Linked DNA regions of Homo sapiens. The protein of the gene in region 1 purifies or fractionates together with the protein of each later gene. This does not show direct contact. Each region holds a gene or a part of one and is shown on either strand. Other genes may lie near its edges.

The links.
Region 2: the proteins of CHD5 (region 1) and TRPS1 purify together in Homo sapiens (co-immunoprecipitation; one large-scale study listed by IntAct). This does not show direct contact.

The regions. Positions count from the first base shown.
Region 1 is NC_000001.11:6,104,293-6,107,629, forward strand, and holds part of CHD5 (chromodomain-helicase-DNA-binding protein 5), read right to left. Parts: intron 2,488-3,337; coding exon 2,324-2,487; intron 2,218-2,323; coding exon 2,103-2,217; intron 1,996-2,102; coding exon 1,988-1,995; 3' UTR 1,942-1,987; intron 1,136-1,941; 3' UTR 1-1,135. UniProt on the Homo sapiens protein: ATP-dependent chromatin-remodeling factor that binds DNA through histones and regulates gene transcription. May specifically recognize and bind trimethylated 'Lys-27' (H3K27me3) and non-methylated 'Lys-4' of histone H3.
Region 2 is NC_000008.11:115,417,180-115,420,999, forward strand, and holds part of TRPS1 (zinc finger transcription factor Trps1), read right to left. Parts: intron 1,274-3,820; coding exon 1,151-1,273; intron 1-1,150. UniProt on the Homo sapiens protein: Transcriptional repressor. Binds specifically to GATA sequences and represses expression of GATA-regulated genes at selected sites and stages in vertebrate development. Regulates chondrocyte proliferation and differentiation.

The DNA.
Region 1 (3,337 bases):
AGGGGTCTGCAGAGGGCACTGGGTCCAGTCCCCCTCCAGGCAGAACTCTCCCCACGCCTTCCAAGAGTGCAGCCTCAGGCAAAAAGCCCCCGGGAAGGCCTTTCCAGGGACAGGGGAATGGGACAAGTCCAGGCCCCCAGGGGCAGCCCGGTTCCACCTCCGGAGGTGGGCAGGGTAGGCATCCCAGGGCACAGGGCAGGGCCAGGGTCTCCTGGGCCAGCTCAGGGCCCATGACCCTCCTTGCTGGGGCGCAGCTATCACTGCCCTTAACCACACCTCTGGCAGAAGGCAAACCCAACGCAGCAGTGGCTCCGAGGCAAGTGCTGCCCCCCCCCCAGCCCACCCTCCCTGGGATCATACGCTTCTGCCTGCTGTGAAGAGCCGGGGCCACAGGCCCCCCACTGGTAACAGAGTCCAGGGCCTTCAAGATGCGCTGGGCCGGGGACAGACACCTGCTGGCAGAGGATCCACCTCCCCACAAGGAGAGAGCAAACACCTGGCGGCCTCCAGCCTTGGCAGGAAGGAGGGGAAATGTCAGCCAGGGTCTCACCATAGGGCTGGACAGCGGCTCCCCAAACCTGCCCTGTCTGGTGCTGGGAGGCTCCAAGCGGGCAGGGGGCCAAATCAGAAGGGGCTGTCACACAGGTGCAGACAGGTCAGGTAGGGGACACTGAGGGCTCCTAGGGCACCGGGCGCCATGTCCTCCCCAGCTGGGCTGAGTCCACAGGGCAGTGCCAGGACTACCTTGGGTCTGGAACCCATCGGTAAAGAGACATCAGTGCTGCAGGTTCGAATCTTCCATACGTCATCCAACTTTTATCAAGACAAACGTGTTCAAGTCTTCAATAGGAAAGTGCAAAAGATGTACAAATAAATGAAATCTCTTCTAAGAAGTCGTCTGGAAAAGGTGGCGAGGGGGCACGTCCGGCGTGGTTGTGGGGGCAACGCTGTGTGGAAGAACACTTGAATTATGATGAGGTGGCACTTCTGGGCTCTGGCCCAGCTGAGCTGGGCCTCGTCCTCCATGTGATGGCATTACTAGGTTTCCCTTTTTGTCCCAAGGTGGCGCTGGCTCCTAAAAAGGTGGCAGCTTTTCTCTCCCATGTGGGTCGGGCAGGTGGCCCGGCAGGCGTGGCTGCAAAACGCAAATCAGTGGGTTAAGCAGGTGGGCAGTTATAGGGGGCATCAGGGTGGCACCCAACAGCCTGTAGCTGCTTCTCCACCTATCACAACCAACTATGATCGGGGTGCCCCCCAGCCATGACCTCCCAGCCACAGGCTGCCGGGCCAGGCCATGAGCTACACCCAGAGTGCCGAGAGCACCCAGGAAGCAGCAGTGGGCAGGGGCAGCCAGCCAGGAAGCCCCTCTGGAGCCTCCTCCAGCAAGACACGGTTCCCACAGGGACAGACACAGCGTAGTGGAGGCTGGTGGCCCCAGAGAAGACCAGAATGAACTGGCAGTTTCTCTGAAATAAGCCCCCTCTCCTGGCCAATAGCCCCCACAAAACCCTCAGCCACCCTCCTGGTCCTGGGCAGGAAGTGAGGGTGTAAGACAAGATGTGATGTCTGCCACCAGCAGGACAGCAGGGGCAGGACAGGGCTCCAGGCGGGGGCAGCAGTCTCTGACTTCCGCTGGGAACATGTGTGCAAATGAGAACACATGTGCACACACAGGAGCTCACCCAAGTCCACCGACCCCTTCATGTCCTGCCACCCCAGCCTCCCAGTGGACAGACACGCTGGCCACAAGGTGGTCCCAGGGCCAAGGGGGCAAGGTAGAGGGGCTCCAGGCAGGTGGGTGGCTCTCAAAGCCGCCGGAGGCAGTAAAAGCTCCAGGACTTAGGGACGGGAGTCAAGTGCAGGGGCAGGGCTGACTGTGGCCAGGCCTGGTTTGCCAGCAATGGGGTGGCGGGGAGGAACACAGCACCCAGCAGCCCTCACCTCAGCTGGAAATGAGCGCTGCAACACAGGGAAGTCTCGAGGACGGCTAGATATCTGTCAAAAAAAGAGGAGAGCCGGGCTTGCCTGACGTTGGCAGCAGCAGGCAGGCCGGGCCCGGCGGGCACCCGTGTGCATGCTGCCCGGAGCGGACGGGCACCTACCGGTCACATAGGGCCCCAGGGGCATCTGGTTGTAGTTGACAATCCCTCCCGGTCCAGGGCCCCGGAAGTTGGGCCCAAAGTTGTTGCTGTACATCTGGGAGGAGCCGAAAGCGCCCTGGAGGCAAGGACTCAGCTTCACAGGTGGTCTCAGGCCCCCCACCCAGCCTCCACCCAGGGGCACGCCAGGGGGCTCGGGCCGGGGCACACAGGCCGAGCCTGACCTGCTGGATGGTGGGGTCCCCGGCGCGGTTGGTCAGGCGGCTCAGGATGCTGCGCTCCGACATCTGCAGCCGGGCGGCCACCGGGGGGATGCGGGACAGCATGGATGGCAGCCGGGTCACGTCGGCCTTCATGTCGCTCAGCAGCTCCTCCAGCTGGTTCAGGACTGTGGTGGGAGGCGGAGGGATGGTAGGATGCAGGGATGGAGGGGTGGAGGGATGGAGGAGTGGAAGGATGGAGGGATGGAGGGGTGGAGGGGTGGAGGGGTGGAGCAGTGGAAGGATGGAGGGATGGAAGGATGGAGGGATGGAGGGGTGGAGGGGTGGAGGGATGGAGGAGAGGAGGGGTGGAGGGGTGGAAGGATGGAGGGGTGGAAGGATGGAGGGATGATGGAGGGATGATGGAGGGATAATGGAGGGAAGATGGAGGGATGGAGGAATGATGGAGCGATGGAAGGATGATGGAGGGGTGGAAGGACGGACGAATGGAGGGGTGGAAGGACGGAGGGATGGAGGGATAATGTAGGGATAATGGAGCGAAGATGGAGGGATGGAGGGAAGGTGGAGGGATGGGGGAAGATGGAGGGATGGAGGGATGATGGAGGGATGGAGGGATGATGGAGGGATGGAGGGATAATGAAGGGATGATGGAGAGATGGAGGGATGATGGTGGGATGGCGGAGTGGAGAGATGGAGGGATGATGAAAGGATGATGGTTGGATGTTGGAGGGATGGAGGGATAATGAAGGAATGATGGAGAGATGGAGGGATGATGGAGGAATGGAGGGGTGGAGAAATGGAGGGATGGAGGGATGATGGAGGAATGAAGGGATGAGGGAGGGATAATGGAGGGATGGAGGGATGATGAAGGGATGATGGATAGATGGAGGGACGATGGAGGGATGGAGCGGTGGAGAGATGGAGGGATGGAGGGATAATGAAGGGATGATGGAGAGATAAAGGGATGTAGGGATGATGAAGGGATGATGGATAGATAAAGGGATATAGGGATGAAGC
Region 2 (3,820 bases), on another chromosome or scaffold:
ATTAATGTCAGTTCCCATTAAATAGAAACTTATTGCTATGCTTAAATGGTGAAGGTTAAAAAAAATAAGTTGGTATGTGGTGGGGGGTGGAATCTTTCTACTTGCTACATGCTAATAACTAAGGTTTTTACAGTTTACTGCCAATTAGTAGTGTTAGCAGCATGCATTTTTTAAAGAGTGCTTCTAATGGTCCATATATGAGAACATTTTGTCTAAAAGTGTATTCCCTGTAGCCATAATGTATTCACTGGCTTGTGCTAAGAGCTATGGTAAAACGCCAAACGAAATGAAAAAGGCACAGGGAAATAAATTTTTGTTTACTAAATGGGGGATGCCTATTTTAAAGTCAGCTCTTGTCAGCAGATGAACTTGCTAAACTAAAAAAAAAAATCCTTCAGTAAGTCAAATCCATATTCAGATGGAGGATTTGTGAGTTTTAATTTTATTACAGAATTCTAACTAAAATTTGAGGAAAAGTAATTCAAAGAACCTCCGTGAGCCAAAGCCAGCTGGAGATCTTAAAAGACAAAGTATCTTTGCACCTTACTCTACCCTGGTGTGTGTGCTATTCAGAACTTCAGATACCTCATTGAAATACCCACTGAAGGCCCTGGGGAGATTCATGTGATATTCTCTGATCCTAATTCAGTTCAGAACTGTCCTTCCGAATGTGCCCCTCCAGCCCCTAAAGCGGTCAAGATAACACTTGTGAATTCCGAAGGTAAACTAGAAAACACGAATTCTTTCCCTGACTTATATTTTATACTGAACATGACCGAGTCCTTTTTCATTTTTTAAAACGTTTTGCATATTTCTGAAACTTCTAAAAATTTTCTCCTTTTTACCTAAAATAATTTCATTGAATTCTGATAACCATTAGTTCAACTATCTGCTGTGAAGTTCCCAGAAATCAATCATTTTCCTCTTTTATATCAAAAGAAGCATAATGCATTACTAATGACCTCAAACCTATCTCCCCATCACATCTAAGCCCCCTTCACCATAAATCACATGTGCACTCAAAGTGACTGTATTAAAACAACCCTGCGGGGGCAGGCACTGCAAGCCAGGGAATGGGACTTATCACACCACAGACCAGGCCAACACTGCTTTATAAAGCTTTTCCTGAAAGAGTGGAACAAGTTCTTACCGAGTGAAGCTTCTGGTAGAGGCCACACGCGTTGCATACATATCCGCCATTTGCATTCTTTCGCCAGAGAGAGGTCTTTGTGGTCAGGCAATTGGCACAAAAAACACCGGAGCCTCTACGCCTCTGAAACAGGGGAAAAAAACCAAGGTCAGAGGTGAGTCACATGATCAGTGGAGTTAGACCAAATCAACCCAGGAGTTTTGTCTTTAAACTAGCAACAATGACAGTATAAAACCACACTGCCCATAATGAGGTCAGGTTCAATTGTGTTTAATAGGCACCACTGATTTTCATTATAATTAACCCTACAGTGATGGATGAGGTGTGTGGAACACCAAAGGCTTTTCACAGAAACAGCTTTAACTTTTTGAACTTTGGGTTTTATGGCTTTAATGATGGCTCCTAAATGCTGAACCCTAAAATATACCTTTTAAAAGTGTCAAAACATACGTCAAAAAGACAGAACATGGCAATATGTTTAATACACTTTGGAAAGGAGGAGCACATGCTACCTGAGCTTTAAAATATAGTCAAGTTTGGAATAAATGTAAATCATTTAAAATTAAACTTGATTTGTGTGTTTTTGTATGTCATTCATGTAACGTAAGTATTACGAGAATATAAGACACTCAATTCTGGTCTTTCGTTTGCAATTGTAAAATCTGAAAGATTCCTCTATTCCTCAAACGTGAGAGGGTTTGTAGAAACTTCAGCCAATTAAAAGTACAGTATTACTAATGAGAACCCTTATGAGGTGCCCACTTAAGTTAGGCAACATAGACCCTTCAATGGCTATTTATTTATTTTATTTGACTTAGACTTGGAAATCACAAGGGTTTCCAAATACAAATTGATTCTAGTGGCCTGAGTTTTGTAATCAACAGGTTAAAAATAACCTAAGAATATTTAAAACTAGATAATTAGTATTGCTTGTTCCATTCTTGCTATCAAGTAATGATTCCATTAAACTTCTCACTTAAACAAAAGTCAGGCTGTGTTTGTAGGCACAAATACTAACAGGCAGGAAATGGAATTCTCTTGCTGAAAAAAAAAAAGAAAAAAAAAGACAGCCTGAATTGCAGTTCAGCTCTCCTTTCTCTAGGAAGCAAAGCCTTTAATGATAAAATATGCGTGTTAGATAAGGAGTGGAAAAAGTCTTGCTGGAACCTAATTTTATTATAAATTAAATATTACATGTGCCATAAGTCAAAATTTCAGGGATTCATAAAATTTAGGCAATTTATTTAACTCAAGTCCATACTGTAGAAGAGTGGTATCCCTGCCAAGAAAATACAATGGTTATAATTGTACTCTGATACATTTCAAATGGAAAGCTTTCTGCAGACATAATTTTGGCTTCAAGACTGGAACACTTTCTTGGCATTGAAAGGGCATTTGATTCATCGGGTGTTTCACAATGTATCACTAAAAAGACCTGGTGAGCAGCCAGTTCCCTATAGGGTAATTTTTCCATCCAGATGCAAGTGCTATCAGAGGCTCTCGTCAGCTAAACTAATTATGATCTTGCAATTGCTGATGCCTGCTCACTCTAACATTCGACATCCTCCATTAATCATCAATACAAGGAAAATGAATGAAACGTAAAGAAATGAGGGCTGGTAAGCTGCACAGCCATAAAAATCTGAAATGAGAGCAATAACTTAACAAGATTGGGGGAATGTTTTTAGTGAGCACAAAGTCAGGCTAACAATTGCCCTTTTAAACCAAGAACACGATTTCATTAGTGTAGCAGGTTGTGCTACTTTAGGTGATGTAATAAAAACTAGATTTCCAAAGATAATCTCTGGCTCCCCTTTTTCTACTTCCCCCCACCCGACTCTGGACCAGGAATGTATCATGAGTTTCTAAGTCTCAATAACATTGCAATAGCAAATGTTGGGTGTCAGTCTGCAAGTCCCAGTGAAGGCCTACTGCAAAAGTGGACTGCTGCTTCCCCCAAAATCAATGAACTATTAGAAGTTGTGTTTATCAAACATTTTGGGGACTCCCTTTGTGCAAAGTAAGCTGGGAGCCTAGTTAAGTTATAATTGTGAAACTTTCCTGGGGCTATCCTGTCATTTTCCTAGATCTAAATAACATGTTTGCAAATAAACACCAACTTGGTCCACACAAGGGCAATGTAAATGTCCATTTGGAAATTAACCCACATATATGGCTGAGGCTCAAATGTGAATGTGTAACCATTCACTCCAGCCTGCTGTTCTTTCCTTATGCCCTGGGTGCTTGACACACCATGCCAAAGTGGGTGTAATCCTGATTTCAGTGAGTGTTTCAACCCTTGCACAATTTGGTGCTTAATTCTCTTGCAAAGAAAATGCCTTTCATTAGTTAGAGGGAAAATCCTGAAATTACAGCACTAGTTTCCAAAAGCATAGCTTGCTTTAAAAGGAGCACTTAGACTCCAATATAGTTTGCTATATTTTAGGTAAACCATATCACATTTTAAATATATCAGGAGTACTTTGAATACACTTATTCAGAGTCAGTAGAGCTTGGAGGTTAATAATCAGATTTAGGTGCCAGAACACTGATATTCAAAACCTGTCTCTGTCATTTGCCAGGTACAACACTGGGCAAGTCACTTAATCTTTCAATGCTTAAAGTTCTCTGATCTTTACAGTGTGAGCTACTGTGATTCTTTTTTTTTTT